Linked DNA regions of Homo sapiens. The protein of the gene in region 2 purifies or fractionates together with the protein of the main gene of each other region. This does not show direct contact. Each region holds a gene or a part of one and is shown on either strand. Other genes may lie near its edges. The genes, in order: GATC and CYP4V2.

What was found.
Region 1: the proteins of CYP4V2 (region 2) and GATC purify together in Homo sapiens (affinity purification with mass spectrometry; 2 studies listed by BioGRID and IntAct, with this or other methods). This does not show direct contact.

The regions. Positions count from the first base shown.
Region 1 is NC_000012.12:120,456,338-120,460,159, reverse strand, and holds part of GATC (glutamyl-tRNA(Gln) amidotransferase subunit C, mitochondrial), read right to left. Parts: intron 3,085-3,822; coding exon 2,981-3,084; intron 254-2,980; coding exon 201-253; 3' UTR 1-200. UniProt on the Homo sapiens protein: Allows the formation of correctly charged Gln-tRNA(Gln) through the transamidation of misacylated Glu-tRNA(Gln) in the mitochondria. The reaction takes place in the presence of glutamine and ATP through an activated gamma-phospho-Glu-tRNA(Gln).
Region 2 is NC_000004.12:186,208,245-186,211,264, reverse strand, and holds part of CYP4V2 (cytochrome P450 4V2), read right to left. Parts: intron 2,401-3,020; coding exon 2,266-2,400; intron 2,173-2,265; coding exon 1,993-2,172; intron 797-1,992; coding exon 624-796; 3' UTR 1-623. UniProt on the Homo sapiens protein: A cytochrome P450 monooxygenase involved in fatty acid metabolism in the eye.

The DNA.
Region 1 (3,822 bases), on a different chromosome or scaffold from region 2:
TTAGCATCAGGAACTCACTGCCTTGTTGGGGCCAGATCTTTCCCAATTCTGTCTTCAGAAGAATCTGTTATTAAGAAATGCTTGAGCATCCATTTTTTCAGGGGACTGAAAAAAGCAGGAACATTAGTATTCACAGTAAAAAAATACTGTCATTATGCTTCCACATGTTCACAGAGTACCCCCTTTCCAGAATGAGCTACTCAGCTGTGTGGGAATGGCTCTTGTTCATCCAGCTTTGGCAAAGAGATATTACCTGTTTGAAAATAACAAAAGAGAATTTTTGTTTGTTTGTTTGTTTTTGTTTTGAGACAGAGTCTCGCTGTTGCCCAGGCTGGAGTGCAGTGGCGCAATCTCAGCTCACTGCAGGCTCCGCCCCCTGGGGTTCACGCCATTCTCCTGCCTCGGCCTCCAGAGTAGCTGGGACTACAGGCGCCCGCCACCTCTCCCGGCTAATTTTTTGTATTTTTAATAGAGACGGGGTTTCACCGTGTTAGCCAGGATGGTCTCGATCTCCTGACCTCGTGATCCGCCCTCCTCGGCCTCCCAAAGTGCTAGGATTACAGGCATGAGCCACCGCGCCCGGCCACAACAGAGAATGTTATAGCTGAGCCTGCCGCCCAGCTGGCTCTACTGAGCTAACTGATCACTACTTTCTCATGGAAAATATGGAAGTAATGTAGCTACTGTCCTGTTTTCCTAACTGGGAGTATCTGAAAGAATCAGTTCTAAGTGTAGCCAAATTCACCTTTTTCAGTAAGGAGTATACAGGTTGATTAGCCACTAATATGCAGATAGGACTAGAAGGAAACACTGACCATGAACTCAGGTGGTCCCAAAAAGCAAAGTCTGAAGTAAGGTTCTGTGTGGGAGATAGCATGTCTGATCAAAAGATATTTCTGCTGGAGCCACAACTATCAGGCTCTGAGATGGAGAGTCTCCTTTCTCTCCACAGTTAACAGGTGGTTTAGTGGATTGGAGGCATGATTAAGAGTTTAGCTCACGGCCGGGTGCGGTGGCTCACACCTGTAATCCCAGCACTCTGGGAGGCCGAAGCGGACGATCACGAGGTCAGGAGAGAGAGACCATCCTGGCTAACACGGTGAAACCCCGTCTCTACTAAAAATACAAAAAATTAGCCAGGCGTTGTGGTGGGCGCCTGTAGTCCTAGCTACTTGGGAGGCTAAGGCAGGAGAATGGCATGAACGTGGAAGGTGGAGCTTGCAGTGAGCCGAGATCGCGCCACTGCACTCCAGCTTGGGCAACAGAGCAAGACTCCGTCTCAAAACAAACAAAAAGTTTAGCTCACAAAATTTCTAGCTTTCTTTCCCATCCTTGCATCAACCAGAGCCTGCCTTTAACTGGCACCTTAAGCTGACCAGGGCCAATGTCTTCTGTGGAGTCTGCTCAGAATGATTCTCCCTCAGGATATCCTGAACTGGAAGTTGGCACTTAGCAGGCTACCTGATTGCTTTTGGCTAGTCCCACTCCCAGATGCCCAGAGGGGTAGTACAACAGCTCCAAGTATTCACCTACCTGCAGAGGAGATAAAAACAGTCAACCTATCCAAGGTTCTGGATTTTACTGTCAGCCCAGAGTAATTTTAAAGCTTCTATTTAAAATATTTACAGTAGGTAGATGATGCAAATCTCTATACCAGCTGTTGTAAACTGATGGCTCACAGACTGCACCTGGCTTGCAGATGTGTTTTATTTGGCTTGGATGGTATTTTGTTTTTTAAATTTTGAATTGGTTGCTAGCACTTAAAATTTAAGAAATATCGGCGGGGTGCAGTGGCTCACCCCTGTAATCCCAGCACTTTGGGAGGCTGAGGCGGGTAGATCACCAGTTCAAGACTAGCCTGGCCAAGATGGTGAAATCCTGCCTCTACTAAAAATACAAAAATATTAGCCAGGCATGGTGGCAGGCACCTGTAATCCCAGCTACTCGGCAGGCTGAGGCAGAGAATTGCTTGAACCCGGGAGGCAGAGGTTGCAGTGAGTCAAGATTGCACTCCAGCCTGGGTGACCGAGCGAGACTCCATCTCAAAAAAAAAAAAAAAAATTTAAGAAATATCACACAAAATGTCAGGTATCCAGGTTCTCTGGAGAAATGGGTTTACATTCCTGCCTGGCAACACTGATAGGGTAGCAGCCATGCTCCTCCTGCTTTGAATGGGCACAGACTGAGGGCAGACCCTAATGGCGTTTGAATCATGTCATAGGCAAAGATGTGACAGAAACATCTGGGCTAAGGCCACACATGATAACTAAGTTGTCACAATAAGATTCGTTTTGGGAGGCCGAGGTGGGTGGATCACCTGAGGTCGGGAGATCGAGACCATCCTGGCTAACACAGTGAAACCCTGTCTCTACTAAAAATACAAAAAATTAGCCAGGCGTGCTGGTGCATGCCTGTAATCCCAGCTACTGGGGAGCCTGAGCAGGAGAATCGCTTGAACCCGGGAGGTGGAGGTTGCGGTGAGCCGAGATTGCACCATTGCACTCCAGCCTGGGCAACAAGAGCGAAACTCCGTCTCAAAAAAAAAAAAAAAAAAAAAGGATTCTTTTAGGAAAGGACTGGTTTTTTTGTGGTACCCAGCCCAAAGCTAGACCTAACAAATATTTATTCATGGTATGAATACTAGAAAGTTGGAGTCGATTACAGGATCTGGCAGGGTCTTAACTGTGGCTTTGAGAAACACTGAATGCCAGCTGCCCCTTTAGGGAGATCTTGAGCTCCAGATTTCCACCTACTTTAAACCTCCCGCATGCCCCCAATCCTGTTTTGCTTGTTCCTGTTACTAACTGCCCCCTAGAGGTGAGTATGACCCTGGACCCTACTGCCACCTTAATGCCACCATCTGTATGCACTTCATCCTTTTCAAAGTGCCTTCACATAGCATCTTTGGTCCTCATGCTTCCTGCTTCATTCCTAAGGTTACTGTGAGACTATCTGTTAAACCATTCTGGGCAGCACGTACCTGGGGGGGCCACAAAGTACTCCTCCACGACGCGATGGGAGTTTTGTAGTAATTCATCAGCACAGTTGCCTTCTACCACATTGTCGGATCTCAGGTATAGACATCTACAAAACCCAGAAGCTCAAGGTTACCCTCTCAGAGAAGGGGGCTTTTAGGGGATGATGGAGAGGGGCAAGAAGGAGAGAACAAGGAAGCAGTATATTCTTGAGTTAATGGGCACTGTTCAAAGATAGAGAAGCTGGGATCAACAGTAGACCAAATAACAGCCTACAGTTTATAGATTGACCGAACAACCCTGAGAAGTAAGTGCTAATTACTTCTCTGGATTGATTTAACAAATAGTTTTTGATGATTATATGGGCAACTGTCTTTTGGTGGGGACAGGTAAAAGCAATTACAAAAACAATATTTTAAATCTAACAGAGGTTAGTACAGCCTGCCAAAGGATAGAAAGGGTACCTAGTCCAGCCTGCGTGAGTAGCACATCCTCAGAATAGCTGATGTCACTGTTCAAGGATGGGCAAGAAATAGCTGGATTGGGGGATGAAGGTATGAGAAATGGACTTCCTGGCACGTATAGCAGCATGAATCCCAAAGCAATAGAGCCGAGAGCTCAGAGATTCAGAGAAGGACAGGGAGTTTAGCAGGCTGGGGTGTGGTCTGCCGGGGTGGAAGATGAAGCTGGAAAGCTAAGCAGAGATGGGGAAGCAAACTTGCCACAAGAGTAACTTAAGGATGTTGGCTGCTAAGTAACAACTGGGATCTCAGCCCAATCTGATACACCTAAAATGAATGCTTTTTCCACCACAGCCACTTTGGTGGATGTGCCTGCCCTTGAGCAA
Region 2 (3,020 bases):
AATTGGACTGTGGATTCCTCTGTTGAGAAACCTGTTAGATGTTTATTTGGGTGCTGACACAATTAACTACTTTTGTGACCACAGCCAACTGTAACATCTATGGTGGTGATAAAAATAAAAAACTCTGGCCAGGCGTGGTGGCTCACGACTATAATCCCAGCACTTTGGGAGGCTGAGGCAGGTGGATCACTTGAGGTCAGGAGTTTGAGACCAGTCTGGCCAACATGGTGACACCCTGTTTCTACTAAAAATACAAAAAAATTAGCCAGGCATGGTGGCAGGCACCTGTAATCCCAGCTACTTGGGAGGCTGAGGCAGAAGAATTGCTTGAACCTGGGAGGTGGAGGTTGCAGTGAGCTGAGATCACACCACTGCACTCCTCCAGCCTGGGCGACAGAGTGAGACACGGTTTCAAAAAAAAAAAATAAAGAAAAAAGAAAAAAGAAAATACAAAACTCAAAACTTTTTCTTTGTTAGACTTGATGTCAAGATCAGTGGGATCAAGGAAAAATTAGGTCTAGGGGATTCAAGCATATTGAACTCATGATCTGTAAATTGTAAATGACAAGGATCTCTTAAAATAAAGACCTTTCTCATGATAAAGGCACAACCCAATAATATAGTTAGCGTTCATCTGCATTTCTCCTCTTCAACTTGATCCAGATGCCATTACTTGGACGAAGAATCAACTGTCCTTCTAGACCAAGCTCTTCTCTTTTCTGGTTGGATTCTATCCAAAAGTGCCTCAGGATGCACGAAAGAATGGTCTTTTCTTCCATCACAGCAAACTTTTGACCTTCAAATTAATGTAGATACCATCGCTTTAGTTATAGATTTACCCCAAATGTGAGAAACAAGAGGTCCTGTCATAGGAAGCGAGCCACTTTACATTTTCGCAGTAGGTGGAAGGAGAACCAGAATGGCTTGGAACACCTGTTAAAGATGAAGAGTCTTGAGTTTCCCTCCCTGATCCCACCTTGCACATCTATAGCTGGGGAGGATCAGAGAATTTGTACTCCAGCTGATCCAGATAAATCCTGAGCTCCTTCAAGCTTGAGACTCACTACCCTAGATTATGTCTTAGTGGGTCTTTCATTTACTATGGATTCACCAAAAAAGCTTCAGATTCACCCGTTTCACTCTGGCCTCATTTTACCGATGTCTGCATTTACATAAATGACAAAATGCTAGAGATACTAAAACCAAAAGGGTTTATAATGCAGGGTGGTGATGTGCATTCATTTTGCTTAAGTACTAGCTGGCCATATGGCAAGCATTTGCTGTTTTGATTTGCAAAATGAAATTCTTAAAAGCAATAAACACAAAAATTAGGTTAACCATAAGTAATCATTAATAAAGTTTTTACCACAATAAGTTATATTCTACTGTAATTAAAACTCTACAACATTTTGAAACTCTACCATGAAGCTAATTATGTTTTATGTTATGGGTAATTGTGTCTCTCTCCAAATTCTAAGCCCCCCCCATACCTTAGAATATGACTGTATTTGGAGACAGGTAATCGAAAGAGGTCAGTAAGTATAAGTGAGGTCATTGGGGTAGGCCCTAGTGTAGTCTGACTGGAGAGAAGATCAGGACACAGACCCACACAGAGGAAAGACCAAGTGAAGACATAAGGAGAAAATGGCATCTACAAGCCACGGAGAGAGGCCTCAGGAGAAACCAGCCCTGCCAACACCTTGTTCTTGAACTTCCAGCCTCCAGAACTGTGAGAAAATAAATTTCTGCTGTTTAAGCCACCCAGTCTGTGGTATTTTGCTATGGAAGCCCATGCAGGCGAATATACTAATATACCTTTTGACCGTAATATTTTAAAACTACAAAGCACAGTGAGGGAAAAAAGAAACCACCTATTTTTTTTTTAAGGCTGTTGCATATGGGCAATGTCACATCACATCTCAAAGAAATCACTGTGAGAAACCCACCATCAAGTGGGCCTGAAAGGTCAAACCAATTCAGATGGATACAAACCTATACAGTTCCTGGGGCCAGCAGAGAAGGGCACGTAGGCATATGGATGGCGCCCTTGTGCATTCTCGGGGAAGAACCGCTCAGGCTGGAACTCCTCGGGGTTGGGGAAGTATCTCGGATCTCTGTGCAATGCATAGGGAATGATGACGGCTTCAGTGCCTTTTAGAACTCTGTAACCTGCTGTCAAGAAGTAGTCAATACATTATGAGACCGGAGCAAGGTAGACATTAGAAAGTTTCCCTCTCCCTTCTACTTTAGGTATAGCATACTTACCCACTTCACAATCTTCACTAACACTACGGGCAAATAAAGGAACAGAAGGAAAAAGGCGAAGGGTCTCCTTAATAACACATTCCAGATACCGAAGTTTCTTCAGGTCTTCTACTGTAGCGGGACGGTCAGACTTCCCTGATGAAAGCAAGTAGATAAGATGACCTGAAAGAGCAGTGGGGGCTGGGGGTGCAGACATCTAAAAAGAACAGGTGGATCAAGGCATGGCATGCTAAATACCCATCAAATACCCAACAAAGAAGAACACGTGGATCAAGGCAGGGGATGCTAAATACCCATCAAATGCCCATCAAAGAAGAACATGTGGATCAAGGTACTGGATGCTAAATACCCATCAAATACCCTTCAAAGAAAAACACGTGGACCAAGGCAGGGGATGCTAAATACCCATCAAATACCCTTCAAAGAAGAACATGTGGATCAAGGTACTGGATGCTAAATACCCATCAAATACCCATCAAAGAACACGTGGATCAAGGTACTAGATGCTAAATACGCATCAAATACCCTTCAAAGAAGAACATGTGGATCAAGGCAGGGGATGCTAAATACCCATCAAATGCCCATCAAAGAAGAACACTTGGATCAAGGTACTGGATGCTAAATACCCATCAAATACCCTTCAAAGAAGAACACGTGGATCAAGGTACTGGATGCTAAATACCCATCAAATACCCTTCAAAGAAGAACACGTGGATCAAGGCAGGGGATGCTAAATACCCATCAAATACGCATCA